Regions from separate parts of the Homo sapiens genome. Here all the other regions are linked to region 3. Evidence: fine-mapped QTL for protein levels in blood plasma. A gene starts in region 3. Each other region holds a variant in brackets. All regions are shown on one strand. Distances are from middle to middle.

Evidence for each region. A credible set is the group of variants that fine-mapping cannot tell apart. PIP is the posterior inclusion probability: the model's chance that the variant is causal. Protein levels are from antibody-based Olink assays in UK Biobank. Linkage for the fine-mapping came from a reference panel and not from the study's own genotypes, which makes the PIPs less certain.
Region 1: its variant is the best candidate, but not a certain one, in a credible set for the plasma level of the BMPER protein (UK Biobank, PIP 0.80).
Region 2: its variant is the best candidate, but not a certain one, in a credible set for the plasma level of the BMPER protein (UK Biobank, PIP 0.51).
Region 4: its variant is the best candidate, but not a certain one, in a credible set for the plasma level of the BMPER protein (UK Biobank, PIP 0.76).

Annotation. Positions count from the first base shown.
Region 1 is chr7:33,751,916-33,760,024 of GRCh38, reverse strand. No RefSeq gene overlaps it. Among named protein-coding and RNA genes, the nearest start is that of FLJ20712, 30 kb to the right of the region's middle. RefSeq lists an enhancer at 7,866-8,109. The variant A/C (reference allele first, on the strand shown) is at 3,761.
Region 2 is chr7:33,868,123-33,876,231 of GRCh38, reverse strand. The region is part of intron 1 of LOC124901613 (a long non-coding RNA gene); the gene reads right to left. Among named protein-coding and RNA genes, the nearest start is that of BMPER, 33 kb to the left of the region's middle. The variant G/A (reference allele first, on the strand shown) is at 3,401.
Region 3 is chr7:33,905,351-33,913,440 of GRCh38, reverse strand. It overlaps BMPER (BMP binding endothelial regulator), which reads right to left and starts at 7,902. Exons shown (of 15, transcript NM_001365308.1): 1 at 7,695-7,902; 2 at 6,538-6,623. The coding sequence starts at 7,827.
Region 4 is chr7:34,030,606-34,038,714 of GRCh38, reverse strand. All of the region lies in intron 6 of BMPER (BMP binding endothelial regulator), which reads right to left. Among named protein-coding and RNA genes, the nearest start is that of BMPER, 130 kb to the right of the region's middle. RefSeq lists an enhancer at 3,117-4,316. The variant T/G (reference allele first, on the strand shown) is at 3,666.

The sequences.
Region 1 (8,109 bases), 150 kb after region 3:
TAGGCAGACAGACTGATCTAATTCATTTCTTAGAGAGATTTTACAACCGATCTTTGTCATCTATTTAGCTAATATTTTCCACAGTCAGAAGAATTATCTTCCTCTGCATTAAGCTCCAAGTTGCTCTGAGACCTGATTTAGGGGGGTCAGAGGAACTGGACTAAAGCCAGGGTCATGGACTGGATTTGTCATCTTCTCCAAACATCTTTACATTCAGGCCAGACACAGCTCTGGGGAAGGAAAGCCACAGAACTGTAGATGGGTTCCTACGTTCTGTACCAAGATGGGGCTCCCACCTGGATTATGCCTGGATGGCAGCTGGCAGACACCTAGCTACATTCCAGCCACATTCAGCACCATTCTGGGGGAGATGAGGGCCTCCCTTCCTTTTTAAAGACCACCAAACTTCACTGATCCACACACTTTTCACTTTGTGGGTCACAGTTGATCATAAATATAACACGTCTGAAATCTGTGAATTTACGTTGGGTTTGTATCAATCGAGCCATCTACCTCTGGACCACTTGGGTGATACATCAGATATAGTTGGACTTTGCTCTCTTCCTGAATTCGCTAGAAACAGTTTGGGGCACATGATTAGGAAGATGTTTATTCAAAGGTAGAGTTCAGGGAGGAAAATATTATTAGGTGACTGTTGGGATTGGCTCATTATGCAAAGACTGGCTTAGAATTGCTTTTATCATAAAACTTTCACTTCTTCTAAGTTTAGTCCAATAACAAAAGTCTTCCTGTGGCAGTGGAAGGAGCCAAACAATAGCATGCTTTGTCTTTGGACTCACGAATTTTATTTCTAAGGTGTTGGGTGCCATTGGTCCTTGAGCTATAGTGCTCACTAGACAATGGGAAATTATGTAGACGAATTGAAGGACATAGCCTATATAAATTCCTAATCTAGTAAAACTTCAGCTCATGCTAGAACCAAACTTGTCTCCAAGGTTTTGAGCAACATTTGGTCTTACCATCTCTTCCTCTCTCAGGCACATGTGGACTGCTGGGTTCTAGGCTAACTGGAAAGGAAACAAAAGCTAAAATCTTACAGCCAGAAAACCTGTTTATATTTAATTGATAGTCTTAAAACTTGTGTCTGGGAGGAAGTGTGGTCTAATTGTTACAACTGTGAGCGATCCCTAATTTCATGAGTCTAGTCTCTTTTACTATTACCAACAAATCATACAAGAACTTCGGTGATTTAATTTAAACCAAAATGGCCTAGTTTTCTTGGTGAATGATAAGAACCTAGAATTAAAGACGTTATTCAGGTGTAAGTGTTATTCAGGATTAAATTCTCCGAAATGGAGAATTAAATCCTGGGCAAGGAGCTTGAATTTGTGAGCAAACGACCAAGAAAGAGAACCAGTAGGTATTGCTTTTGGAGAGGCAGCCTCAGCATCCTGATATTTACAAAATTTCTACCCAGGGACCCAGGAATGAATTTGATTCTCAAAAAGAGTTTAAAGACACCCCTCCCAGAAGTCTTTAAAGGCAGTAATGAGTATTGGTGAACAATTTCCATTACTTGAAAAAAAAAACCTTGATAACATTACATAGGCATGCTATCTAAAATACTAAATGTCTTTAATTTTTAGCTGGAGAAACATAACTTACTTGATAACACATATTCTGAGCAGAAGCTCTGATAGTCTTTGATTAATGAAAACCCCCAAATGAATTTTTATTACTAATTAAGGTTTGTTTGCTACATTAAGTCATTTAAAATACGGGGACTATGAGGAAAGAATAATAATAAAAAAGGTACTTGGAGGAGATATTTGCTTGTTGGACCATTGGCTCGTTAGTTTGTTTTGAGAAGGGTTGGAGAAATGAAGGAAAGAACTAAAATGAGTGTGAAAAGAAAAATAGAGTACAAAATTTCAGTTAGATGGCAGGAATTAGTTCTACAGATCCATTGCACAATATTATGACTACAGTTAATAACAATGTATTGTATTGTATTGTATTTTTGCAAATTTGCCTAGAGAGTAGATTTTAAATGTTCTCACCACACAAAAGATAAAAAGTGTGTGAGGTAATGCATACGTTAATTAGCTCAATTTAGGCATTCCACAGAGTATGCATATTTCAAAGTAACATGTTGTATGCAATAAATAGATGCAATTTTTATTTTTCAATTAAAAAAATAAATTTTTAAAAAGTAAGCAAGTAAAACAGGAACAAAAAGAGAATAGTCAGCAAGCAATCCACGAAGCATTTATAAATTGAGTAATAGATTATAGCGCCACCTCGTGGTTGGAGGAGTTTTTGTTTTGATCATTCATTTAGGTTTCATTCCCCTATTGTTACTGCAACAAAGATAGAAAATAATTACTCTCTAAATAGGATGCTTTAAGGGCAGGATACCCTAGGTATTGCCAGGGTGCCTTCAAGTGTGTTTTACTTACAAAAATATAAGCCCCTGAAATGCTGATGGACCACAACTTGATACTTTCCAGAGTGGCAATTAGGAGGCTTTTTTCAACAGAATTTTCTTCCTAACAGGTTATGAATAATACATTGCACCAACGTATAACCATTGTGGGTATACATTGTTACCCAACACACAGGCACAATTCTGCTTGACAATAGACTATGCCTCCTAGTAACCTGAGGCGAACCCAGCATACGCTCAGCCGGCCTGCTGCCTGCTGGCCTCCCCAGCCAAACACGTGGCCAACACCATTCATCAACTGGAGAATTTCACCCAACGACAATCTTTCTCCACACGGCATTCCAGGCACTACTACTAATACAGCAACTTTGACATAAAATCCTATTTGCCTACCCAGCCTTAAGTCAGAGATGTCACATAAATTTGAGATCTCACTCTTGGGAGGCAGTGAGGCACAGGAGAAACACTGTGTGTTGACAGTCACCCTAACCTAGTTTCATCTCTCAGCTCTGTCAGTCACATAGCTATGTGTGCTTGAGCAAGTGACCTCGCCCCTCTGAGTCTTGATTTTCCTCTTTCTTTTTTTCTTTATTTTTTTTGAGATAGAGTCTCTCTCTGTCGCCCAGGCTGGAGTACAGTGGCACGATCTCAGCTCACTGCAACCTCCACCTCCCGGGTTCAAGCGATTCTTCTGCCTCAGCCTCCCAAGTAACTGGGACTACAGGTGTGCGCCACCACGCCCGGCTAATTTTTGTATTTTTAATAGAGACAGGGTTTCACCATATTGGCCAGGCTCTTCTCAAACTCCTGACCTTGTGATCCGCCCACCTCGGCCTCCCAAAGTGTAAAACAAATTACAGGCTTGAGCCACCACGCCCAGCCTCCTCTTTCTTAAATAATGATTATATCACCCAACAGGATTACTGTCAGGATTAAGTGAGATAACATTTCCAAGTCAGGCAGCATAGTGCCTTGAACTGAGTATGTGTTTAGCAAATGCTAATTCCCTCTCCTGCCAATATTAATCATAAAAGGAGTTACGCATCTTACTTTGAACTCCAAATTCTCTCTTTGGTACCCCCTATCAATCTCCCCAGTTTTGGCTGTTCAGCTCTTGTGTGAACAGCAGTCTCCCTTTATTCGTGGAGAGTACATTCCAAGACCCCCAGCGGATGCCTGAAACCTTGGATAGTACTGAACCCTATAGACACTGTTTTTGCCTATACATATATGCCTATGATAAATTTATAAATTAGGCACAGGAAAAAATTAACCATAGTGAAATTAGACACTATAATAAATACTGTAATAAAATTTATATTAATATGGTCTCTGTCTCTCTCTGTTTCTCAA[A/C]ATATCTTAATGTACTGTACTTAACCTATTTTTGGACCACAGTTGAGGTAACAGAAACTTGGGAAAGCTAAACTGTGGATAATGAGGGCCAACTATAATTAATTCCGAAAATAAGTAAAGCTCGAGAAGAGGAATAGATTAACTCTATTGTGAATTTTAGAGCAAGTTAAAGAACAAAATACAGACTGAGAATTGCCAAACACTTGGTCTGAGCAGTCAATTCTCATCCGTGTATAAGCTTTGACCCTATACAACCAACAAGTGTTAACAATCCCATTGTGCTCAAAGTGGCCACCAATCAGACAGTTAAACCTATGAAACCATGAACATAAGCCACCAACGCAAAGTGAAAAAACTCAGTTAGGAGGCACAACTGAGCAAATTCACCATTCCCCAGGCCATTTCTGCCCAAAACTCTGGTTCCACGTTCTACGACAATGGAATCATTTGCCCAGCAACCCGGCTTTACCATGCAATCTTCCTCTGCTTCCTTCCTTTGGAATAAATAGAACTTGTCCCATGCTCTCTGTGGCTGATCCCCAGTGCAGACGCCAGCTTTCACTGATTTCATGAGTACAGAAGGGAAAGCCAAAAAATCAACAAAGAGAGAAAGCTACTACCTTGATCTATTTCTAAACAGCAACTCTGCTGTTTTTCATGGGCAGACGGGAGCTGTGAATGTAATTGTGACCAATGCTGAGATTAAACCCATGAATGATTTGGCTTGAGCTTTTAAGAGTGATCAAAATTGTGGAGCATAGCCTTGTTTACGGGTTTATAGATCTGCCTGGGGCATCCGACGCCCTTGACTATGATTTATTATTACAGGACAGAGATTATCTCAGACTGGGCTGGAAATGGATCTTGGCTGAGTTATTTAACTCACCGGATGCAATGTGTGAGAGTTGATGGCCTTGTTTCTCAATTTGTCAGTTGTAAAGGGAGTCCCCAAGGCTCAATTTCAGACCCAGTATTGTTTACATAGCCCGGCAATAATACATCACATGTGGCAAAATATTACAAATTCATTTTTATGCTGATGATATGGCTCAGGCATAATGGCAGCTAATGTGCTGCTCTTTTTATTTGAAATTGCAGCTACGTCTCTAAAGGCACAAAGGGGCTTTTGTGTTTTGAACCATAAAGAAGAGAATGTATATGACAGTTTTTAGAAGGACTAATGAATGGTTTGATCAGGCTCGGCTGCCATCTGTAAAAGAGTCCCATTATAGCAGTTACGGTCATTATAATATCATACTATCTGAAGGTATCTGTCAGGATTTTTTCATACTATTATTATTATTATTATTGTTTGGGAAGCAATGGAAAACGGCTTTCCATTTTGCTATTTGTATTTAGATGATGGGAAAGGAATAATTTGAACAATGATTCCCATCTGGAACTTTATTCAAATGGCCTGCACCAGTCATATGGAGATGACACTTTGGCACATACGCGAAGTACCAAAGGGTACACTGTGTTTAAAATTTGGAGAAAATTCTCCATATAAATAAATTCACTATGAATCACAACAAATTGCCTACCCACTGCTTCTGAAACATCTTTAGCCGGAAAAACACCAGCACATTTTAAGAATACAGAAATGCTCCCAATGAGGCAGAACTGCATTTCATTTTTGGACTTAGAAAGTAAGAATGAAAATCATGGGCATCCATATCAAGAAAGAACAGTGCCTTTTAAATAAGATTTCATGCTCTAGGACACTAACAAATCAAAAAAATAAACAGATAAAACAGCAAATTCCTCAGGAATTTGGTGTGTTTTAAAAGAACATTTACAAAAAGGGAAAGAAAAAAAGACAGAGTCACTTCATATTTTTTTCAGATATTTTCTAGCCCTACAAAGCCCTGCCTTTTCCCACACGGAAAGACAGCCAGTGGCTGCGTGGCCACGGGTAATTTGGATTTAATTGTGTTTGCTTAAGCCATACATTCCACTCCCAAACCATAAAAACGAATCCTAGAAATCACAATAATTTGAAAACTCTGGAGTCTGTGTCCTGTTTGCTTTTTCAAAAGAAGATTCTCAGGAAAGCTTTATTGCAACCTGTATGTTTACCTTTGGGATCTTCCTAAAACACAGTACCTCCTTTAGAAGGATGCATGGAAGATCAAAAGACGCAACTGCAGTGCCTCCAAGTAGCACTGTCAGCCCATTGCTAGAGGAGGATCTCAGAGAAAGAGGGCTGGGTTTCCAGGGCCTTTACTCTCATATGTAGCCATTTACTTCTTTGACAAATATTTACTGAGTGCCTACTATGTGCTGAGGAGAAAAGGCATCCTGGCGAGAGCACAGGCTTAGAATCTGATAGGCCTGGGCTCAATGATTGGCTTTGCAGTTTTCTAAATGGGCAGCCTTGGGCAGATTAGTTAACCCCTGTATGCCAGGCACATAGTGGAAAGTCAGTGGAGATTTGTCAAGGAAATAAATAAATAAGTTTTTGTTTCTTCATCTATAAAATGTGGCTATCAGAGCCTGCTTTGTGGGGTTATTGAAGATGTGATGAGAAAATGGATAGATCGTGCTTTATTGCTGTTGCTGTTTTTCCATTAGTATACAGTGGTCCCCGATCTTTGGTACTGTGGAGAAGGCAGACAAGCAAATCAACAATTATTCTGCAATGTGGCTGAAAAATAAACTAAACTAGGGGTGGGAAAGCACAGTGGTGAGACTCAGAAAAGGCTTCCCAGGGAAATGATTCTCGAGCTAAGGTTTATCAGGTAGGTAAAACCCAGCCAGGCAAAAGAAGGGAGGAATGGCATTCCAAGCAAACGGATTGGAACCCAGTGGGCAAAGAGGCAGGAGGGAGGTCTGTGTCCTGACAGGTGGCTTGATGTGGCTCAACTCCCAGGCACACGGGGGCAGATAATAGGCTAAAGAGATAGGCTTTATTCAGTCATTTTTCTGGGTCTCAACCTTACATTCTTAATCCAAACCAAACACCAGTGATGGAGGCACGGGTAAGAAAGAAACTTGGTCAGGCACAGTGGCTTACACCTGGAATCCCAGCACTTTGGGAGGCCAAGGCAGGTAGATCACTGGAGATTAGGAGTTCGAGACCAGCCTGGCCAACACGGTGAAACCCCATCTCTACTAAAAAAAAAAAAAAAAAACAAAAATTAGCTGGGCGTGGTGGCACATGCCTGTAATCCCAGCTACTAGGGAGGCTGAGGCAGGAGCATTGCTTGAACCCGGCAGGTGGAGGTTGCAGTTAGCCGAGATTGAGCCACTGGACTCTAGCCTGGGCAACAGAGCAAGACTTTAACTAGAAAAAAAAAAAAAGAAAGAAGAAAGAAGAAAAGAAAGAAAGAAAGAAAGAAAGAAAGAAAGAAAGAAAGAAAGAAAGAAAGAAAGAAAGAAAGAGAAAGAAAGAAAGGAAGGAAGGAAGGAAGGAAGGAAGGAAGGAAGGAAGGAAGGAAGGAAAAGAAAAGAAAGAAAGAAAAGAAAGAAAGAGGGAAGGAGGAAGGGAGGGAGGGAAGGAAGGAAGGAAGGAAGACTTGCAAGCAGGAAAGCGTCTATTGCCACCATGGCTGTAGGGCAGTGGGGTGGTTCCAGGATTCAGCCTTCACAGAAGCCACCAGAAAATCTACAGGAGTCAGCAGGAAACCTGTTATTTTCCTGAAGCACCCAACTCTAAATGACACTTGAAATCTTAGAGTTTTAATATCTTTATCCTAGTATTTTTAGTCCTGAATTCCTGAACTTAATTGCTAATCCCATCTACAGTCACGCATTGCTTAATGATGGGGATATATTTGGAGATATGTGTCCTTAGGTGATTTCGTTGTTGTGACCATCACAGAGTGCATTACACAACCTAGATGGTAGGGCCTCCTACACACCGAGGCTATGTGGTATGGCCTAGTGCTCCTAGACTACAGACCTGTACAGCATGGTCCTGTACTGAATACCGTAGGCAACTGTAACACAGCAGTATTTGTGTATAAGATATCTAAACACAGAAAAGATAGAGTAAAAATACTGTATTATAATCTTATGGGCCCACCATCATCTATGTGGTCCTGTGGTTTAATAAAACATCGTAATATGGCGTGTAACTGTAGATTTACATTTTCAGCTTTTCATCTATGAGCATTTTATCTTAATATTTTACCTCCTCTATGCTTATGCTTTTAAACTTTTATCTTATTAACTTCAAGCCTCTTATCTTTTATTTTAAATATCATTCATTTTATCACATGTACCTTATCTTACAAACATTTTAAATTTTATTTTCAACTAATACTTTGTTTTTCTTACATTTTTTTTCTGGCAGTGTTTTAATTTTATTCACCTTGTAACTTTCTAGCTTCTTTTTCTTTTAAAAG
Region 2 (8,109 bases), 37 kb after region 3:
AGCCAAGAAGATTCATCACTTACTTTATATAAACCCCCAAATTTCCTCCTTGAACCACTGCTAATTTTCACACAGTGTGAGGGATACTGCTGAATATAAACTTGTCGGGTAGAATATAGAGAAAAGGCAAATCCAGAGTGATCCAACAGCATTCCCAAATGCATCCAAAATACTGGAGTGCAGGACGCAACCAGGATTATTTGAATTCCATTTGGATCCCCATAATTCCATTCTTTTTAAAAACGGGTCATCCTTTTCTTTATTATAATGAAGCATTCTTTAATATTTCTTGCCTCTCTGGTTGAAGATGCTTTTGAAAAGCAAGACTTTAGTTGTATATTTTTTCTGGATTCCCTAGCAATATATTTTGATGCAATCATTGAAAAATGTCATGCTCTCTCTGGGGTCTTCGCAGTCAATGGTAACTAAACATTTGATTGAGAAGTGTACTTTCTGTGGACTTTTTTAGGGTCACTGCGATGTGAACAGAACCCAGTAGAATTCACTTCTGCTGTTTCATTTTAAAATAGGGTTGAGAATGGAAATAATGCCTTTCTAAGTGGAACTGAACTTCAACTTTGAAGGGATGCTATAGATTTCTGAGGGAGCAAGAGCTTGTGTCTGGAACCCAGCATCTCCATGTGGTTAACAGCTTCTAAAATTTATCTCATGTGTTTAAGGTTTTTTGTATAAATTTAAGGGACTTCACATTTCTAACCAGTGTGTTAACACTTAGATTAAGACCACACTTACACACCCTTTTCTTACTTAAGAGCAATTAAATGGTGTACTAACAAGAAGAAAGTTACTTTATTTACAGTGTTGATGGAAAAATATTGGCAATGTGATAACTATTACTATAAAAATATGATTTTTTAATACTTCTAAACTAACCTTTGAAAAAGGCTGTGTCTTTTTTCTTTTTTTCAAGGCAAGGTTCTTGGAACCACTTGGTGAGTCTATATCGAATATTTTACTTTCTTTTTTCTGTGAGACAGCAAAAAGTTCATCCAAATAGAACCATGCTTCTACCACATAAATCACTCAGAAAATCTGGTAACTTTCCATGTGATTCAGTTAAATCCTTTAAATCCCACAGGAGAATTTACTTGCTTTTGGCATATTTCACCATATTAGGAGGAAAACCAGTCTCCAGGGACGTGGTGGTTAACGTGAATGGGCCAAAGGCAGATGTCCTAAACTCAGTTTTGTTAGCTTAGGCATTTTCAGATGGTGTTTCTCTTGGTCAAAGTTCCTCGAGAAGTTTCTTTTCTGTGTCCTCCGTCCCCGCTTAGGTCCCCCACAATGTCTTTAAAAGGACAGACCCTTTCCTTTTATAATTAAATATAAGATTTAAATGTAGAGGGCCGTTAACATGTTAAACTAAACCCAGCCTTACCTAACACCAGGATGGGTGGGTTTGAGTGCACAGCAAGAGATGCAGGGAGAATAGAAGAGAGCAAGACACTCGCTGAGAAGTGGAGGGGCTGAAGGAAGCAAACCAAGTCTTCTCCCATTTCTCAATTTTGCCCAAGGCTGGCCCACATGTTAGTGGATTCTCTGAGCTGAGATAGAAATCCACCTTCTGGAGGCGGTTGCTATTATATGGGTTGTGCAAACTCTAAACAACTTTACTCCAGAAGACTTTTGCATCCTGCATATTTTTAAGTTTTATTACATAAATATGAATGCACAATGCCCAGGAAAGAGGTGTTCTGTGTCCTAAGAAGAGTCACTGTTTGTTCATAGATGCTCAGGTCATGACTCACATGCTTTTTAAGAGACTTTTCTTTCAAGTGAATGTAAATGGGGTGGAGGAAGGGAGAGAGGGAGACAAAATCAGGGACAGAATGCCATCCACTATAAATTATATTGATGTCACAATGAAAAGAAATAGCTCCTCTGCAAGACTTCACATATTCAAGTCAACAAATGGCTAAGTGTTGTAAATATTTCCCAGTTCCATGGGTTTGAGAGTAAATTTTAAAAATCATATTGGGGCTCTCTGCTAAAGATAGTAGAAGTCCAGCCTCTCCCAGAGTCAGACTGGTCATTGGTCATCTCCACTCCTAGAAGAGTTTCAAACATCTGTACTTTCAGACTGGAGGAAATAAGGTAAGGAAGGAAACAAAAAGGAATGTTTTCAATGTGTGGCCTCTTACTCTACCCTCTTGAACAATCTCAGTAGATCCTGGTGAGACGCCCCTTCCCTTTCTTTTCGAGAATTTCTTCGATAGAAAATTTAGCATAGCAGAGCTATAGAATTTGGAGAATTTCTACATATATGCTTGATCTCTTTTGAAACTCAATAGACCTGCTAGCAGGGTAAAGAAGAAAAGTATTGCATTCAGTCTAACCCAAGGGGGACTTGGATCACCTAACCCAGATTCCCCAGGGCTCATGCTGAGGCTCATTCTTCCTTAATTCAAAACATGGGCTGTGTCTTGAAGTCTGAATGCGAAGGCTCAAGTTAGATAATAAGGTGCCATTTGTCCAGGGAGAAAGACAAAGCAAAACAGAAGAATGTGAGTAGATACCAAGGCATGCCAAAGAGTTTCCCATGCTTGTTGCCTGAGTGTAGTTAGGTGAAATACTTAAAGCCTGCCTCTGTGGCCTGAGCCCAGGCAGCCAAAGTGGGAGAAAATTGCTCCTTCAAAAGTTAGTGCTTAAATTAACTGCCCCCATCTCCACCACAGCCCCAGGTGTTGTAAAAACTGGATTAATCTAAGGTCTTTTTAACCCCCTACTTTGCATACATATTTAAATTCTGGGGCTCTAAGCCAAAATTCCCCAGTGGACCACCTTATCCTTTGTTAATTGAAAAAATAAACAGTTCTGTGGTAGTGGAGAGGGGTGTTTTCACAGAAATGTCTTTGATGCTAAGGCTGCTTTAGGGATACATTTCCTGTGCCTTCCATGAAGTATAGCACAAGACAAACTCAAGGACCTCAAAAAACAAAGGGGCAACCAATAGTCAGGACCCAAAGTGTTTTCTATAAAGGCGATTGACGGGTGGTTACACTTACCCTGACTCAGGTTAAATCCAGGAATGGTGAGGGGTTTGGGGAATAACAGCCTATGCATTCAACACTGCCCAGAAGTCAGAGCTCAGCACAGTGTGGGTGTGACCAACACATGCACACCAGGCTACCGCTTCTCCTCTCTTGAAGTGGTGACAGCTTATGAAATTCTAGCTGCTACTGCTGATTCAGCGGAAGGAGTCCATGGAATGTTATTGCCAACCACTATTTCTCCATTAACTTATCTATACCCACCATGGGTCATGGGAAAGAAAAGTTTATCAATATTGCATTTGTTTTTACTTGGTGTGAGAGGTGGAGGGAAGCTGGCATGTGCCTATAATACACAGTTATATTAGATTGACAGGATTTAAATAAGC[G/A]TGAAGACCTAGCGGAGTGTTACTTTCCCTTATGCAAAGGATTTTTTCCAAAGGGGTGAAGAACATACATTCTCAAGGTATCTGCTGGACCCCTATTGACTTCTGTAGGGATGGCACTGTGTCTGAGAGGCCAAAGAAAAGACCTACAGCCAGCGAACGAAATACAGGCTTTATTGAAGACTTACCTATCGGGTGGTCCAGGGACAGCGGATTAGGCAGGAAGACCCACTATCGTTTGTAAAAAGTATGCAGTGTATATAGCATTTTGGCTTAGCAACCTCCACCTAGCAACCTCCATTTAACCCAAAACGAAGGGCCTTCCCCTCCCCGGATGGCCTGTATTTCAAGGAACGGGCCAGGAGTTCAGATATTCTTCGTAAAGAAGGAGTGAATCTCCAGGTTGGCCACTCCCGTATTCCTTAGCTTGAAACTGAAACAAAATTCTTCCTAGATCATACGGCCATTCTCTGGGTTTGCTTAAGTTATTGCTGTCAGGTGCATCTGCCATACACACGGTAGAAAGGGACACTTTAATGTGTGGTAAAATAAGAAGCATAGTTTTGTAGACCCTGCAACTGGATGGACTAACCTGTTAACAGGCCTACACCAGTAATCTGAGAGCACACAGTCCAGTGTGCTAGCTAAAAGCACCTGTGCTGAAGTCAGGCTGCCTTGGGTTCAAATCCTGACTTCTGCCACTTAGGTGAGTGACAGTCTTCAGAGTCTCTAAGAAGCAGACCCCAAGGCAAAGATTCAAGTGATCCATCAACAAAGAACTCCCCAGGGAAAGTGGTAAATGAGAAGCCCACTACAGAAGGAGAAGTAAAGAGGTGTGATTTTGGTTGAAGGCCAGTCACAACCTGATTCTCAGGGAGCTCAGGAGTGTAAATTGCACCCCAGAATTCATCCAGAGGCAAAGAAGCTGATCTTTGGTTCACCAATTGGTCATCAGCTAGTAGGTGGAGGTTCAGTAATCAACTCCTGGATGCTTGGCTACAGGTGAGGCGGCTATGGCAGCCCACAGGCAAGCCTTTGAAGAATTTTCCAGCCATAAGCCCTTGGCAGCAAGGCACACGGAACTGGGGAATGGGTGCAGAGCACTGGTGATCATGACCACATGGGCACTTGACAGGGGTGCCAAGGGTGTTCACTGTAGTGAGTATGGACACACTTCCTAATTTCTCTGGGTCTAAGTTTCCTTCTATAGAAAATGGGGACAGGGTCGGGCATGGTGGCCATGTCTGTAATCCCAGCACTTTGGGAGGCTGAGGCGGGTGGATCACCTCAGGTCAGGAGTTCGAGACCAGCCTGGCCATCACAGTGAAACCCCGTCTCTACTAAAAATACAAAAATTAGCCACATGTGGTGGCACGCCCCTGTAGTCCCAGCTACTCAGGAGGCTGAGGCGGGAGAATCGCTTGAACCCGGGAGGCAGAGGTTGCAGTGAGCCGAGATCATGCCACTGCACTCCAGCCTGGGTGACAGAGTGAGACTCCGTCTCAAAAAAAAAAAAAAAAAATTGCTAAGGACTCCAAAGAGCTTAGTTTATGTGGGGTATAGCTATCAATATTTTCCATATTAGAAACTGAAACTGAGAAAAATTTTAAATATTAATTACTTAACTGTAAAGTAATAATTACATGTTAAAGTAAATTACACATTTTATGAAAAATAGCTATATTTTCCAAAACAGAAAAAAATGAGAGAATAGTGGCATTGTTTTACATGTTTTCAAATTTCTTTAATATCTGGTTCCGTAAAGATAGCAGGATTCTCCTCTCTGCTTCTGTGTTGCTTACTTTGCAATATGTTGTTTTGGTTGAAGTATAGAAAGAAAATCCAGCTTCACATAGTTATATAGTTGGAAAAGCAGGAATATGTTCCAATTTTCTCAAATAATTTTAGGTATTTTTCTTTCACTATACTCCAAAACTCTACACATGTTAGTTTTAATAAAGGTGAGTTGCAGAATAGAATTTGAAACCAGGTAATTGAACATTTTATACTCAATTACATTAAATCCATTGCCTATCTTTCATGTTGAGTGTATTATTTTATCCACACATGATTTATAACCTAATATATTGGAAAATATTACACTGAATTATGCAAATCTTCCCAATGTTGACACGTTTCATTTACAGTATTTTAAAATACCATTTATAAATAATGCCACTGATCCTATCAGAAAACTCTTTAAATATTGAGAAACTTTCAGGCTCAGAGTAAAAGATAAAAGTTTTCCAAATTCAATTTTCAGTTGAAAGCTCAGATTTGCACTGTTCTAATTACCGTTGAGACTGAGAAGCCATCCCTGGCCCTCCCAGGCTGGGTCAGGGACCCTCCTGGAACAGTATCCCTTCCTGGCCTCTGGCGCAACACTTGCCACATTCTATTGAGATTATCTGCTTTGGTCACTGTGTCTCTCACTAGACCATGAGCTCCTTCCAAGCAGAATTATGTCTTCTATCTCCTTGTCCTTAGTACCTCACACATAAACATTACTCAGTGAGGGAATGATTGAATAAATCCCTGGGAGTGATGAATGCACTGACTACAGGAATCTGTCTCACATTCCCAGACAGGAGATTTTGTTATCATGTAAATCCTATGCATGACTGAAAATGTAAGCCGAGCTGAAGTTGCCTTACAAACATAGATGTCACACGGGTGATGCAAAAACACACACCAAAGAAATAAAGGTCTGTCTTCCTCTGGGGCAAGGGCCCAGAATAAAAAGGCCAAATGGAAGCAGGGACAAAAGACAGACCCTGTGAAGTGGGCAGCAGAGTGGGTGGGTCATACACGGGGTGTGGAACCATTTGTGGGGGAAGGGAATAGAAGGAGGTTTGAAAGGAAACAGAAAATAAGGAATGGGAAGCACAAGTCCAGCCAGAAGAAAAGAAGAAAATAGGAGGCAACAAGACTAAAGGATGGCAGAAAAGTTGAGGAAGAAAAGAATAACCAGAGCCCAGCCCTCGCTCAGCAGCCACAGACAGAATAAGAAAGGGGCAGAGACAGTAAGGAGAGGTGGATGTGAGCACAGCAGATGGACGGCAAAGAGAATACTTTGAGATATTTTCCATGTAGAATTTGTCTACCCGCTAAATTCCTCACAGTCCCACCCCACCTCCTGGCCCCAAATTAATGTTTATTTGTGCAATGAAATTGTGTCTCTGCATTTGTCTACACTGGAAAGAAGGCCTTCTCTTATCCAGATATTTTTCTACTCACTTTGAAGAAGCCCTGAGCGACCTTTTCTGTAGGACCACATTTACAACCATCTACATTCGGTCCATAATGATTTCGTGTATTTGTCCTCTGTGTCCAGGACCCAGTGGTTGTACTGGAGAATTTTATCCCTAAGCCCTGCCTGACAATACAACGAAACTGACATCAAGGACGAGTGAAGAAACAATGAACCAGACAGTCTATAACCAGCATGGAACACTATTGTGTGAGTCAATGTCTTCTGATGAACATCTGTTCCATGGCATCGTAATAGTCATGGCATGAGAATAAGTTAGGGACACTCAGGGTTAAAGAAAATTCAACAGGCTTCTTTATTGTAGGGATTCTTAAAGGTAATCTTCACTTTGGGAAGACAGCACACTGTATCTCCCCAGTTTATTTACAAACAAGGCCTTTTTTTGCTGAGCCAATATCTCTCAGGATAAGCCCCTGAAGACCACAGTTTGGAAACATTAGTATAAACTCTAATGGCAGAGAGAGGGTCTGTGAGGCCTCAGAAGCTCCTGGACAGGTTGGAAAGCCACAGACTTAAAAATAATTTCTAACAAGTGTTAAGATATTTCTGTTCCCTTGGGGTCCCTTCTGCAAATTTCCAATAATCCATTAACCTAGAGTCAGTTTTTCAGGTTAGGTTATTACCACCATAGACAGACCAAGGCAGAGATGAAGTCCAAGGCTAGAAAATATCAGAGGGAGTTCTTCCCCATGTCAGGTGCGCCCTCTCCCAGGTGCCTGCATGGCCGACTCTCTTTCCTCCCTCAAATCTCCTCAAACATCATCTCTTCATCGGGTCCTTCTCTGATTGCCCAGTCTAGAATTACAGACCCATTCCCCTGTGCTCCTTCTTTCTGCTGCATTTTTTTCTATCCTCCTTCTCAACATCTAACATACTATTTAATTTAGTTATTTATTTTGTTTCATTACTGTCTGCTTCTACCAGAATGCAGTCTCCAAAAGGGCAGGAATTTTCATCTCTCTTGCTTACAACCGAAACTCCAGCATCTGAAGCAATGTCTGGGGAATATCAGCCACTCCGTAAATCTTTGTTGAGTGAATGAATAAATGAGTACGAGAAAGAAGGAATGCTGGGTTTTTAGTTGAGGTTATGGAGCATGTTTTACATTTCTTTGTCGCATCCCTCCATCCTCCAGCCTCTGAGCCTCTGGGTCTCAGCAGGCTAAGCAGTCACGGAGATCACATTCTGATCTTGTGACACTGCCCCAACTCCAGCCCTCTGAAGCCCTGGGTGTTTGGTATCCTGGAGGTGAAACAGCAGCAGCCTTTGCGTTTCCAAGGCTGTGTCACTCAGCGACATCACACAGCCACCCACAACAGGCCAGCTTGCGAAATTGTTAAGGAGCCTGAGGATATTATTTTCATTTCCACACAAACATAAATGATCAGATATAAGCGTGGAGCTGCTGCTCTGGAAAATAACCATCAACCATCAAGGGAAT
Region 3 (8,090 bases):
TATCCCGTACAAAAGCTCCTAGAGATCTTTATATAAAATTTATTTTATTGTGTCATGTGTTTGCACAAAAATATTAAATGGCTTCTCCCAGTTACATGAATGGAACTGATATCCTTATTATTACATTCAAGATGCTCCCCTTGCTGGTTCCCATGGAGATTTCTAACTCCAGCTCCATCACAGCTTTGGGCACAATAGACGCTGCCATTTCCACAGTCCCAAGCACACTCTCTTTGTGTCCTTCCTCCAACAAGGCTTTGCCTGGATCATCTCTCCTCCCACATCACGGTCCCAGATACCCTAGTCAGAATTCACTGGCAGCCCCCTTAGTACAGGGGTTTGAGTCTATTACAGTGCTTTTCTGTCACTCCTATAAAGTTTCTTATTTATATATGTGTTCGTCTCCCCCATTAGGCTGTGGGCAAGAATCTGTCCTGTTGGTCTTTGTCTCCTCAAAGGTCCCCAGCCAGCACAATGCTTCAAACACAGAAAGGGCTAAAAATAATAAAATAAAATGGAAGAGGGGATGAAGTGTGGAAAGAAGGAAGAAAGAATAATATTATTGAATTTATAACCTGCTATCCCTAGTGCCTTGAGTGGTGTTTTATAGAATTAGAACTGGGAATCAACAGGTCTTAAAATATACACCCAGCTCATTTGCTGATCTTAACTAAGTTCAACAAGCACACTTGACCTCCCACTGCCATGAAAGGTGGTGTTACTCATATTCTTTTATAGCACAAAGGACTCAATATATCATCATTTATACAGAAGGGCCATAGAAGAGGGTGTGAAAAACTGATATCCTTTATTTACCCAACAAATTCATATTAACTAGTTTTATTTTTCCATCATTTTGCCTTGCCTGACTTTTCCCATTATCTCCTATTCTACTGCCCTCCCCCTATTTGCATTCTAGTCTGGGGAAGGGCTCTCTTTCCTCAACATTATTTCCTACACTTAAAACACAATTTACTGTTGATACCCACAGTCAAGTCCAGTGCCTCAAAACAAAATAAACAGTGTTTGAAATGGGATGGGGAAGGGGAGCATTGAGTAAGTAGGCAACAAAAACATACTCAGTTCTGGAAAGGGGTCGAGAGCCTTCCACAAGGCGGGCCAGGAAAATCCCCATGATGCCAGGCCACTAGGCAGTTTTTCCAGAATTACAGTGCTCCCGAGTCCCAACCCAATCCCTCTGCCAATAAAAGTACAAGTGAAGGTGACCCCACAGGCATAGAGATGTAAATACTCTGCAAGAAAGCAGGCCCCTCTTCCACGGAAAGTTGTGTTTTTTGTTGTTGTTTGTTTGTTTGTTTGTTTATGTTTAATGGAAAGCGAGGGGAAAACTTACACCAGGGCCCAAAGATCACTGGGATCACTGGACCAATAAGGAAGCAGCCTAGATCAGCCCAGTCCAAGCCTGGAGGGACAGAAAAACTCACTAAACATTTCTGACAAACCTTGTTCATGCGTAACAATGGGTGGGTTTGCCATCATTATTCCTATGTCTCGTCCGTCGTCCCTTTTATCATTTTCTTTTGAAATTTTGCATCCTATTCCATATGAGGAAATAAGAATTTTTAAAAATAATGCCATCATCAACAACAGCAATAAAAAATCATTCCAGAGTGTTTACTCTATGCCAAGCCCCAGGCCAAACTTTATGTGCTACATCTCATTTAATTCACATAGCAACTCTGTGAACTAGATGTTGACATCCATCCCACTCTCCAGATGAAGAAACTGAGGTTTGGAAAGGTGAGGTAGTTGTCTCAACTTCACCACCAGTTTGATTTTAACCCAAGACTGTCTGATGTCTGGGCCAAAGTTCTTTGCCAAAATGTTATGATGCCAGCCAAAACCCATGTCTTTCTTGGAAGAGCTCTCCAAATTCTAGACAGTTTGGGTTGCAAGATCAAAACCACTATAACTGCCTCCATAGAGAGCCTACATTAGCTCTGTGCAGGTTGAAAGGACTCTCTGAAGCTCTTGAAGGTATCTGTAGAAGTTTTTAAGTAGTAAACGTTTCCAGCAGAGGGAAACTCTGGTTTAGCAAAGAAGGAACTGACTTCACATCCCAGTTCTGTCTCTTAGTAACTGTGTGATCTCACGAGATTTGCTCTACTTCTCTGAGCCTGAATAAAGCATGGACGAGAATAACTCTCAGAACTAGTCTTTGTGAATTTGCCGACACAATCCTATACATTAACTGTTACCTTTCCCAAAAATTGTTCTGTTGAAAGGTAATTGGTCACATCACCTTCTAAACAGAGTAAAAATAAATAAATCTGATTGCTTCCTTAGTGAGCATCCAAAGTCTAGAAATGACCTGAAACAACTTGGAAAAAGCAAGGCAATCTATGTATTTGTGCATATACTGAGTGCAGTACCTCTCTGAACACATCTGGTCTACTTTATATCTTCTCTCTCTCTGTTTCACACGTGCATACACACATGAATTGAATCCTCATGCAATGTTATCTCCCTCATCCTCAAACATGTGCCTAACACTTGTTTAGATAATAGATATCTATTCTCCAGCCAGTTAATTTGAACAATGAAGAACATGAGGATTTTATGGAGATAAGACACCAGACAGAATCTAAGATGCTGGGAGCTCCTTGTTCAGCGATATTAGATTTTTGTGATTAAAAAAGTAGAAGACAGCAGACAAGGTCTCTCTGTCTTCACTATTTGATTGGCTCCAAGACAGGTGGAGCCCTGATTCTTGTAACATTGAATTTCATGTTGCTTTTTATGAGCAAAGGGTCCATTTCTACATTGCACCTCTGGATTTTAAAGAGGAAATTTCAACCTCAGAATAATGTTTTTTGCTGAACAAAATGTACGCCAAACTAAGCTCTGACTTCGGGTTTTCTGAGTCCCAGCCTCCAAAGTTTTCTCAGGTTTCCAGTACTGGGCCCAACTCACTGGCTCCCGCCATGTCCTCCTATTCTACAGTTAGGTGGAAAAGGCTGAGAAGATCAAGCACCACACTTCTCATGTGTGCTTGGTGGACCTAGGGATGTCCCAAAGATCAGAGAATGGCTTCAGTTTCATTTATCTAGGTGTGGCTGGCTCTCTTCTCAGCTGTACTCCAGGGCAGGCACCAACGTGTTTTCCTAGACATTATGGGAAAAATAATTCTAGCAAGAAAGTGGGAAAATATCATACAAAAACAGTAATAACTGTTGGCTTCCTTTCCTCGGCCCCATAAAAGACCATTTTGTAAGGTAGGGAAAAGTTATGCTTTGCTTTCTGACTAAACAATAAAGCACATGCAGTTTAATCTCAACTGCCTACCCAGTTCCCTAGATTTTAGGACCATGATCCAACTTCTCACCTACCCCCTCAAATAGATGAACTGAAGCTTTTTGGGCCACATACTTTAAAACGAGATTCCATCACCAGCTAACAAACCAGTTATTCTTGGACTGGGACTGGTTCTGGCAAGATGCTCAGGTCTACGCAGAGGATGATAAATGAGAATAAAATTATTCAGCTCTGCTTACAGTGGCCACTGCACCCACTGTCATCCTCAAAAACTCCACAGAAATGAGCTCACTCCAACCTTTGAAACATTTCACAGCTTAAAAGTTTAAATCAGGCCAAGTTGATTTTTGTGGGGTTTTTTAAGCTTTTACTCTGTAATTATATACAGGACTTTGTGCCACCTATTTCCTCCCAACTGTAACATTTTACATCTTTTTTAAGCATACGTTGACGTTAGCTTTTTCTTTCTTTTTTTTTTTTTTTTGTACATGTTATGAAATAAGATATGAGCTTATACTCAGCCTTAGGTACCTTTCTGCCAAAAGGCTGGACCAACACAAACTAAATATGACTATTTTCTTTATCCAAAGTACAGTTGAGACTATTACATACCCTCTTAATGTACATACATAAAACCAGCTAACCACTAACGCTCCCTGCAGGTCAACTGAAATCATAACGAGATTTTCCTTTCATATAATGCGATTAACAAATGTCAACTAACTGAACTCCTGAAAGACTCAAAAGAAAAAACAAAATAACCCAAGGAACGCCAAAAGGTAAAATAATTTGGATGTTCTTTCTATTTTCTCCTTACTTTCTCACATCTTTAACTCAACAAATAGGCTGTTTCTTATGGTTATAGGCATGTGCTCTAGAGGCAGACAAAACTGAGACAGTTTCGGCTCCACTATTTACTCAAATGCAACCTTCACAAGCTACTTAGCCCCCTATGCCTCAGTTTCCTCATCTGTAAAATAAAGGTAAAAGCCCTCAAAGGAGTTTTGTGAAGATTAAATGAAATAATGCAGGCTTAGATGAGGCCCTACAAGCAAAAATAAAATAAAATAAAAATAGTACACATAAATGTTTACCATTGCTATTATTATCAATTTGCTCAATAGGTCTACCTTCCAGCCTAGGTACAAAAATGCCAAGTAGCTTCCTGGCTGTCCGGAGTGCTTTGAAATCCATGAACTGCAGTGGGTTCGTGGAAATGTACAAGAGTGTTATACAAAGAGATAAGTGGTCATCCATCTATTATTACTCAATTTTACCAAGTCATTACAAACGTTTGGGAAGCAGCAATGACTGTGACAACTTGGACCCCATAATTCTAAACCCCTGCAAAGGTCATGATAACATATCACTGAGCCTTTCAGCCAATGAAAGAGCTCTGTAATGGGTGAAGCTGATAGCCAAAGTCCTAATATTACACATTTAGAAAGGATTTCTGACAGCACTCACCCAAGGCAGATACCTACAACTGTTACTTAAATGTTGAAGACATAAATAAACCTACTGCCCTTCTGAATTTAATTGATACTTTTCTGTAATAAATATCACTCCCACTTGAATTCCAACTGATGCATCTTTTCAGATGTAATCTTTACCTTCAAAACTGCAGGACTCTAACATCTATCTTCTTATCACTAAGTCTCCACTTTCAGAGAAAGGCACTATTTTTAGCAGGGGTAGGAGTACTGAAAAGGGGGGAATGCTGTGGGGAGAATTTCTCATAATGTTATTTGGGAACAGTTTACAAAACTCAAACTACATACGTAAGCTTGATAAGTACTAATATTGCTGAAGTGAAAACAATATATTTATATGCAAAGCTCTCGGCACATTTAAATATTACTTGGTCAAGGTAATTTCCTCTGAAATCTTAATAGATTAAGATAAAATAATTCACTCACATTACACAGATAAGAAAAATAAAAAAGGAAGATTAAACACACATACACACACACTGCATTTGTAAATCTACAACTGAGTCAAAATTTAAACTGAAAGCTTCTTTTCAACAAATTATTTACTAAAAGATCATCAATGAACACAGCAACCCATAAATATGCAATCATAATACACCCTCTCTCAGCTCTGTTTTATTAGGCAGCAATATTTATTGTGTCAGCAAACGCAGTGCGTTTTTACTTGTTTCTGTTGATTTCCTTAGTCTTCCGAACCTGATAATTGTTTGATACAGCCATTTACCTTCACCCATTTATCACTTCAAAACATTGACCTCAACTCTTGTCATGAAAAAATTTATGTAGTATAAACTCAGATAGCTTGGCTTTTGCCTAAACCGAAATGAATTCCTTCTCCAGCGCCACACAGCATGCTGATCTAGCAACAAGTAGTCCTCTATCATTCTGGGGCTTTGCATTTGACTGCCTTAATGTATTTCCAACAAGGTTTTATAATGTGTAGTTTCTAACCAAATTTTGCCAAAAGTGATTGGCATGTAAAACACTCCTAAGCAAAAATGTTTACCTTGTAGGTCTATATTTCATCTCAGAAATTCTTATTCACATTACTTAATCTCCCCCAAGTGGTTACTTATTAGACTTATCATTAACTACTAAACTAAAATAAATGGAAACAAATTATTTTTTGAGTCTTCTAACCACTGATAGTGTTAACTAAGCAGCTGACAGCCAAGTGTCATTCTCTATTAAGGATGGAATTGTCCTTTCCGACTCATGCTTCCAAATCAGAAATAAAGACAGTATTTGAGGGTTTAGGGTATAACAGGCAAAGAAACCCGAGAAAGAAATCCAGAATTACATCTTGTCCTTATGTTTGTTTTTTGTGGCTGTCACCTCTCTTTCCCTTTGTCGCATACCTTATTCCTGACCTTCATACTTAAATCTTATCTCATCATTTTCCCACTGAGCTTAAATGACAGAACCAACGCAGAAAGTTTTGTTGTCCCAAGAATTTGGTTGTAGTAATCATTACTGGAAACAGACATTACAAACTGTCATTTCACCGAGACGTCATACAAAGCCTATCTGAAATTTACGTCTATAAGGATGATGTCAAAGATAAGAATTTCCAGCTGGATGAAATGGAAATTGCCAAAGTCCATAAAACTCAGAAATTAACTGGATTCAACTCACAAACTATGTACAGTTATGTGCAATTTTGTAATGATAAAGACAATTTGTAAGATCTGGTTATATTATCACATTTAATGGATTCACCTTATCAGAGAGAGCAGTTGAGTTCATATTACCTGATCTCCACACTTACCAAGCAGACACACATTATGCAAGGGTTGTCTGTGATAAATGGAATCTGGAGGACTTCACCTTCATTTTCACATTTTGCAACAGAACCTGAAATTCAGGGGGGAAAAATGTTTCATTTAAAGTTAGCTTAGCAGCATGATTTCAACATTTAAAATTTTTACACTAATCCTTTTTGAAACCTCTACCCAAACTTCAGAATTCTTAATGTGGTTTAAATTATTAAATTCACCAAAGCAAAACCTCTGCCCCCAACTCCATTTTCAATAATTTTATTTAAACAGGTTCAAAAAAGAAAAGACTATGATATAGGGATAAATTATCTGTTCTCAGATGGTCTAAGCACAATTCCAAGTATTTCACTGGATTTTTAATAACACTCCTCCTTTATGAAGATATTTCAACTAAGCACACAGCCCCATACGCAAAGAAAAAAATAAAAAATAAAATTTAAAAAAACCCTCAAATTGGGGCAGATTTTAAATTGACCAAAACTCAGAACTGAGTCAATAAACAGGCCTTTCTATGAATCTGTCTCGCATTGTCTTAGGTTTAAATCACTTTTTGAAACGCAATCCCCTTTTCCCTTCTCTTAGAAATTGACTCCATATTTTCTTTTCTGCACCAGGTGTCAGTAAAGTATGTCCTTCAGAATAGCAGCTGAGGTCTTCACCTGCCTGAAAACATATAATTATTATATCCGGCTATTAGTGCCCTTTTTAAATGATAGTTTCTTTAAATTCAAGGTCTTGAGAGCCAGTGCTTTAAAAAGCACTCCTAGCACAGTGGATGTATTGCAACCCCAAAGATGAGAAAGGAAGATGTGCGGAAAACTGCACAAATTTTTTTCCTGAGTTCTACAGAGGGAAAGATTAAAATAAAAGTTGAGGAAAGCATTAAAAATAAATAAAATAATTTCTCAAATTCAAATAGAAGAATGTCTATTATTACTACATTGAAGGCAACAGCCTCTCAGCCCGCAACCTCTTCACCAGCCTTCCCAGCCCTCCCGGGGCTTCGCTTCATCCCCATCGACCAGCGCAGGGCAAGCGCCAAGGTGCGCGCTCCCCACCCTCCCATCCCCGGGGCAAGCCAGCGCCACCTTTCCCAGGTACCAAACCGGCGTCCCGGAGGGCCGGTCCCTCCCGCCCCCTCCCCTACCTGTCAAGAAGGAGGAAGCCAGAGACATGGGGACCCCCGAGCAATTGAGTAGCAGCAAGACGCAGCACGTAATCCCAGGCGAGCGGCGGCAGTAACGCTCAGCCAGAGCCCCGACGCCGGAGAACCAGAGCATCGTCACCTGGAGGGAATCCCTGGCGACTGCAGGTCCCGCGCCGCCGCCTCTGCTCAGCTGCCGCAGCTCACAGTCGAAAAGGGCTCTCAGCCGGCGTGTCGGGAGACCGTCCGCGAAGGAGGGAGGCGGGCGCCCGAGAGCTGGGGGGCGGGGGGGTGTGAGGGAGGGCGGGGGGAGAGACCAAGGTGTGGGGGCGCCCGGGGAGGAGGGGTCCTGCGGCCAGGCTCCTCCGATGCGGCTTTTTTTTTTTTTTTCCTGAGGGA
Region 4 (8,109 bases), 130 kb before region 3:
GCTGACAAAAACAAAAACCCTTTTGTACTTCACGACCTATTAAGAGAACTATGAACTAATGCCCTGTCTTGAGAACCAAGCCTGAAACAAATTCCTTTTATTTTGCATGCCAATTAATGTTTCTAAGTATAACTGCATTATTGTTATTATTGTTTATATTATTTTATTAAGTTTTCTATTGCTGCTATGATAAGTTACAAATGGAGTGTCTTAAAACAACACACACTTATTTTCTTACAGTCAGAAGTCTGGAATCAGTTTCATGGGGCTAAAATCCAGGTATCAGCAGGCTGCATTCCTTCTGGAGGCTCTAGAGAAGAATCTGTTTCCTTGCCTTCTCCAGCTTCCAGAGGCAGCCTGCCTTCCATGGCTGATGGCCCCCTCCTCCATCTTCAAAGCTATCAGTGCAGCACCTTCAGACCTCCCTCTGACTGTGCTCTCTGCTCATCATCACATCTCCTCCGACTCTGACCCTCCTGCTTCCCTTTTATAAGTACTATTGTAAGTGGGCAGCCCACCCAAAGAATCCAGGGTCACCTCTCCATCGCAAGGTCCTTAACTTAATCCTATCTGCAAAGTCTCTTGTGCCATGTAAGGTCACCTTCACAGGTTTTGGAGATTAGGACATGGACATCTTGGGGCCAGGGGATGCATTATTCTGCCTACCCTAATTATTATTAAATAAATGACATTTAATTTCTCTGTGTAGTCCCAAATGTCATATTTCAGGCCTAATGTGACTACAACACACCTCACCAAAAAAGCTAGTGTTTCTAATGCTTTCCTAAGGAAAAGATAGCCAAGAAGCTCGATTTAAATCCTGGTCTTATGGCTTGCGATCTGAGTAAGTTCACATCCACTTATTTTTTCTTCTTCCTGCACCCATGTCTAGTTAGAAGGTGAAATTCAAACCAGACAATCCAATGTTTTCGTCTTATTCGCCCTCTCCTTTTGTCATAGGCAAATTATAAGCGCTGATGGACAGCTTCAGGAGCAACTTTCGGTGTTAATGAAGTAAGAAAACTGTCTTTGTTGCCAACAGGTCTTTTCAGGGGCGCTATGCCAGTCTTGCTGGCCAGCACCAACCCCTTAAGTTGAAGTTCCCACTAAGCTGTGGGACTTGGCCAGGCACCCTCTGGCCCAGGCTACAGAGCCCTGCAGGGACATCAATGTCCTCTCATGGTCAGCTAGATGACTCCCAAAGAGTTTAACCATGTTTGCTATATTTCAAGATTCTTACAGAAAAATGCCTCAACCGGTCTCGGTGGAGGGGTTACAGAGCAGGCACTGTGAGGCCTCAGCCTGTGAATAGCACAGCTAGATGCCTTCTTTCTACAGCTGCACAAGTGAGCAGGTCCAGCCTGGCTATAGAGACAGTGTTAAACTTCAACTGCATACAGCGGCAGAGCCAAAGATCATAATTTCATAAAGCAAATATTAGATTATTAAATAAATACATGATGGAAATGTCTTTACCATAGTTCCACTAATCCCTTTTTTGTTTGTTTGTTTTTAAGAGACAACTTGTCTCTCTCACCCAGGCTAGAGTGCAGTGGCGCAATAATAGTTCACTGTGACCTCAAACTCTCAGCCTCAAGCAATCTTCGTGCCTCAGCCTCCCAAAGCACAATTACAGGTGTGAGCCCCACTGCCCAGCCACTAAACTCCATTTGAAAAGGGGATTTGGTTATTGTGTTTGCTTAAGTCTCATTTTTAAAGGTAAAATTGGCCTCATCTTCCCCTTGGAGTCCTTGATCTTAGCTCTTCCTGCCACTTAGCTGAATGGCAGTTTTCCTTGTTTGTTTGTTCATGTGTTTGTTTTCTTTTACGTTTTTTCTTTGAAAAAGAAAGAAATTCTTCTCCTTCCACCAACTCAGGCTTTCCACTCAGGCAGACACACAAATCACTGATGAAAGACTGCGATATTGTTTGAGGCAAATTCCAACTGGTTCTGGGTGTCCACAGCTATTTTACTTTCCTCTTTGTCTATTTTAGAATGAGGAAGATAAGCCCACCCTATAGGCCCAAGCTCAGATGAGATCTCTAAACAAATGCCCTGGGAACCGAGAGGAGAGGCAAAGCTCTGGAAGTCTGAGTAGATTTGCACCCCTAGATTGTGTGGTGTGTGGAAGCAGGTGCTGAATGATAGCTGGACTCAGTGATCTGCCCCCAGCAAGGTCTTTCCCCTTCCAGGGCTAACTGAGCTGAAACTGGAGGAGAGGCGGGGCCTGCTGATAAGGGCCCTGACAGCCAGCTCCTGCCATGCCTCTGAGCCTGGGTGTTCCCTCTCTGAAACGATCAATAAATAAACAAGTAAATCCACAGGAGAACACCTCCTAATATTTCAGATTCCTGGAGACCTTGCAGACCACCCTGGTAGGATGTTTCTCAACTGCTGCCCAGAAACAAACAAACAAAAAAAAGTGAAAGGAAGAAAATGAGCCCTTTTCCTTTTCTTGCCATTTTTATCAAAGTTCAAACTTTCATCATCACGGAAGTAGTCAAAGCTGTTACAAGCCTACTGCTGACACATCAAACGCTTTATCTACAGCCTGGCCCGCTTCCAGGCAGATGAAAAGAACAATCATTTAGAACTCACACCTCCTATGAGTTATGAGCCATTCCTAAAAGGAAGGAAATAACACCATTATGCAGGAGAAAGGGCATTTTTTCATGTTCCCCAGGCTATCTACATCACAACAACATTGGATAGGCACTAAGAAGAAAGCCGAACGGAGGCCTTTGACTGCTCAAGACTTCTACAAATACGGAACTGCAGAGACAGAAACCCAAGACATCACCAATGAACTGTTTTCCTAAAACTTTCTGTTGACCTTTAAGTTCTGGCTACCTAAAATAGTTTATATTGTTTTATTTTGTTCCCACAATGCTTCATATGGGTTTATCGTTTGTCCCAAAGTAGGTTGAAGGTTCACAGAGGGCAGAAGCCATATTCATTAATATTTCTTCTGTCTTCCACAGTGCCTAGCCACACAGTGAGGCCAGAGTAACATCAGAAGTGTTTGGTTTTCAGTTAAACACCTTCTTGTTGGGTTGTCAGTTAAAGCTGAAAATAACTCAAAAATGTTTGTGCTCCATTGAGGTTTCTTGAGGTACAAAAAATATCTGTTATCTTGACATGAATGACTCTTAATTAAGATATACCTGAATCTCTCTCACTGTATTGACAAAATTATACTTAGAAGTCTTTGAGGTTTTCCTTAGTATGCCTGAGCACACTACGGAAAAATAAGATTACATTTAAACTTCATTTTCATTTCTAAATAGCAATTGAAGTCACGGCATCCTTTTTGTTCACCCTTTCAATATACATTTGAGTTTCTGTATGTCAGACACTATGGTCTTTAAATGAAATAAATCCAAAATATCTATTTGGTATCCATTGTTATGTGCAGTTCTCTAATTTGTATCAGGTGGCAATTTCCTAAAATTTTAACAAAATCTAAAATGTTGTAAGTACAATGTCATGAAGTTCTATAGTAAACACTCCGTGGCCTCCATCAAGGAACACTGCGCAGAGAGACTAGAGGTTTCCGGCACTATTCATTCAAACTCATGATGCTCCTGGGTATTGGTCTTGTCAAACAATTTTAAGTTTGTGTTTTGAGACAGGCTGCAACCCAATCTTGGCAAGCTCTTGGGAC[T/G]ATCCTAATCTAGGCCATATATGATCAAAGAAAAACAAGTGTACAGTCTGTTGGCACCAGCTGTGGTGGGGGGTCCCAGCATGAGCCAAAGCTAGTGTTCTGACATGTCTGGGCAGGTCCAGTGAAAGGGAGAGGTTCACTCATCGGCTTCTCCTGAGAGAAAATCCACCCTGAGGGAGGAAGAGATGAACAACAAGAGAATCACCTACTGACTGAGCCTGACAGAAGGAACATGCTATCACCAACATAACTTGGCATCTGTCACTCACATCATCCCAAGTTCAGTACCACAGATGCCTGTATTCTCCTAGAGGAGAAAGAATACTGAAAGTAAAAGCACAAAAGAATTGTTTAACTAAAATCTTTGTGAGATTCAAGTATAGGCCCTACTGATTTAGGTGTCCTATAATTGAGTAGAACACAGAAAAAGGAAAGTGATATTGGCCCTTGCCACTTCAGTGGAGACTTCCATACTGCTTTGTCATCTGAGGCCTCCAGGACACTAGCTGAAATGTGCAAAGATGGTGGAAGTAGTGGCTGTGCCAGGCTGAGAACCAAAGTGCTTGGAAAAATGGTGGCAACATCAAACAGAGGGCACAACAGCAGACAGACATGGCAGAAGAGGGAATCTTTTCCGGCTCAGGAAAGTGGTATTTCCTCTATCATGAACTCCGACTTTCTAGGAAGGCTCTCCATCTTCCTACTGAAAGATGATCTATGTCAGCAATGCTCAGCATTTGGCAGTATAGCACAAATCCACAAGGCATATTCTCTGACAAATTGATTCATGTATTGGCCAAGCAGAAAGAAGAAGTGTTTGGCCAATAAGTTATATTAAATTGAAGTTCTCCTGGAATAATATTAGGCCAGGTTCAGAAGCATTGTCTTGTAATCTTGGCCAGAACATGCTGAGACGCCAGAAGGGAGTAGCACCTCAGTGAGGCCATGGCTGGATGGAAAGCTTATGATCATGGGTGAGGTCTGAGTGGACCACAGCTCCGTAACTGTGACAACATGCTTAACTCCAAAGGTCTTTCTCAAGAAGGATGGAGAAACACAAGTCTAAACCAGTTAAATAGAAGAAAATTCTACCTGAACATTCTTAGTTAGTACCTTATTTCAGATAATGATACAGAAAACGACAGCAGTTCAGGACTTTTTCTTTTTAAGACCATAACTAGAAGGATAGAAGTTTAAGGGCTTACCAGAAGTACCCTAAATATTGCACTAAAAACCACAGACAATCCTGTGAAGATAACGGAAGACAAGTGGAGGGCCACCTTTGACTAGAAATCCAGGAATGCCCAATCTACTTAAAAGAGATGTCAAGGCTTCTGTGGTCAATGCCCAAGGGCAAGTCCCTCAGAAAATGCCCAGGGCTCTCTTCAAAGACCAGTATTGAAGGGGAATATTCTTGGGGCAAATGTCCAGAATTAAGGGACATAGAAGTTCAGAAAGATCATCATTTTATTCTACCAGCCTAACTTAAAGTTGATGGTAGTGTCTTAAAAACAGGCAGATTAAGTGAAAGCTTACATACTGAAGGCTGAACACTTAGCTTTTTTTTTAACCAGGAAATCCAGAAAATCACTTCTTAAGGTGGTCTATATTGTTTATAAAGAGCCTCATCCATTGGTACTACATGTGGTTGCCAAGTTCAGAGAACTGATATAAACAAATAACTCAATGTGCATAATCAACTCATGATCAGAACATTGCTAGCTCCGAGTGGCTGAACATATTTTTGATGTGAAGAATGTCCTGCACATTCCCAAGTCTGTGAATTATAGATATTGTCCTTTCAGTGAGGTATTTCTCTTAATATTTAGATGGTACATTAAATGTTTTTTGTTATAAGTAGCTACCTGATAAGTGTTTATGGACTCTGTGAATGAAACTCTAAGACAAAAGGTCTCCATCCTCCTTCCAAAAATTCTTGAGGTAGAAAATAGCTCCCATTTATATTATATACTTTGCCTAAAATGCATTGTGTGGACTTCCATATACAATGACCATTTAGTGTTTTTGTTTTAGGAAAGTGTTTCCAGTGGTCTAGGACAAAAAGTATGATCTACTGAGCCTTTGACCTGGTTTGGCCTGTTGCAGCCTTGAGGATTAATTCTTGTTCCCTCTTTCTCAAATCCTCTCAGCCTCTAACTGTGAAATGAAAAGTGGCCCACTCTCTAGAATCAGTCCTGCTGGAAAATGGTTGTTCTCACTCCAACACTAATAAAACATGCCATGGTAGGGAAACGGGAAACCACTAGAGCAAAGTGTTCAACATTAATATTTCTTGGAGGGTCTGATGAATTTTACTTTAAAAAGCAGAAGCATTCTTAAAACTTGAGAATGAAAGGAGCAGTGTTTGAAACAAAATTGTTCATGGTAAAAATATTAAAGGATTCTCTTCTCAAACATTCCGAACTCCAAAGGGTACACAGTTACCCATGTAGCCCAATAGTATAAGCAAAAAGCTACGAATCTGTGTAAAGAGGACATTTCTTTCATCCAATACTTAATATGTGAGGTGTCTGCATCAAAATACTCTTGAAGACTCCAAATCTTCTCTATCATTCGATTTGTAGAAATAACAATATCCATGCATGCGGAACTTATACCATACTCCAGATAATGGGTGATGAATCAAAACTTTGAGGAAAAATAATGACTTTAAAATGTTATGGAAACCCTACTTCCTGATGACACGAGAAGATCTATGGCTTAAACTCAATACAAACCAGGAAATCGTTCCAGATTCTAAATCAAGGAGGAAAGCTGGAAGTACATATGGTTAAGGGAACAAACTCATGGGGTTAAGAGCTCCTTCAGATTCCCAGTTCTATTCCTTGCTGTATTGCACCAAAGTTAATTAACTTCTCCTAAGCTTCAATTTTTTCATTTGTAAATTGGGAAGAACAATAGTATTCAGTCTCATAGAGTTCATGAAAAGAACAGAACAACTGAGGTAAAGCTTTTAATTCAGTATCTGGCACATAGTAAATGCTCAATAAATGTTAACTATTTTATATATATATATATACACACACACACACATATATATTTATATATAAGATATATTTATATATATGTGTGTGTGTATATATATGTGTGTGTGTGTGTGTATATATATATATATATATATATATATATATATATATATATATATGGTCAAATTAATTTTAAATGCCATGCAGCTCCATAAAATAATAAATGAGTTACCTTGGGGAGTTTATTTAATTGGAGTCTTGGTTATTTTATCTCTAAACAATGCTATTTTCCTCGCAAAGCTGTTGTGAAAATTATATGCAACAATGTGCTTAAAGTGCCCAGCACAGTGCTTGCTCTATAAGTGTTATCAATTAAAAATGAACCTCTGGCACCCTCTTCCCCACCTCACTGTCCTTGGGTTTAGCCAGTCAAAGTATATTTCACTGGCCAAGAGAACGGGGCTATGAAAGGTACAGAGCTGTGGTGACTTTTCCTCTGAAAAGTTAGGAGAACATTTGTGTTTTCCTTGGCACCAAGAACACATGGGTAGTCTTTGGGGTGTACAGTAGTGTATACATCACCCATGTATTTGCATAAAGTTTCAAAGCACTTTCTTGATATATGCAGTATGACAGCTGCTGTCACAATATATTTATATAAGTTCAACACAGATTTTATAAAATAATCTTGCAAGTCTTTGTTTTCCTAAGGAGGGGTTTGTTTGGAGGCTGGGGGATAATCATTTCATCTCACTGTGAAAAACAGCACATGCTGACACACATCCTTTACCAATGACACAAACAGATTGGTGTTCCCTATTAACGTGTGAGGCAACCCCGCAGTTATAGTAGGCCACTATTACCATTTTTAAAATGTCTTTTCTGAAAGAAAAAAAACAGCACTGATGGATGCAGTAACCACAATCCATCTGAGGTCTAGAAGGAAGGATGAAATAGATAACTGTGACTTTTGCACACAGAATTCTTCCAGCTAATTGTCGTATTCCCAGCCTGGCTGTCCTTTTGTCCACATGAAGGACTTGACCTAACGTGAAAGACAATGAGAATTCCTTGACACCTGCCAACATTCACCTCAGTCTTCCTCAGAGACACAAGTAGCTCAGATTAGCCAAATCTTTCCATCAAAAAAATCAATGTATAGGGAGGCACAGTGTCTCAGGCCTGTAATCCCAGCACTTTGGGAGGCCAAGGTAGAAGGATCATTTGAGACCAGGAGTTTGATACCAGCTGGGCAACATAGCGAGACCCTGTCTCTACAACAAATAAAAAATTAGACAAGCATGGTGGCAGTGCCTGTAGCCTCAGGTGGGAGGATCACTTGAGCTCAGGAGTCCAGGTTATATAGTGAGCTATGATTGCACCACTGCACTCCAGCTGGGGCAACAGAGAAGACCCCATCTCGAAAAAAAAAAAATCAATGTAATTTCTATCAATAA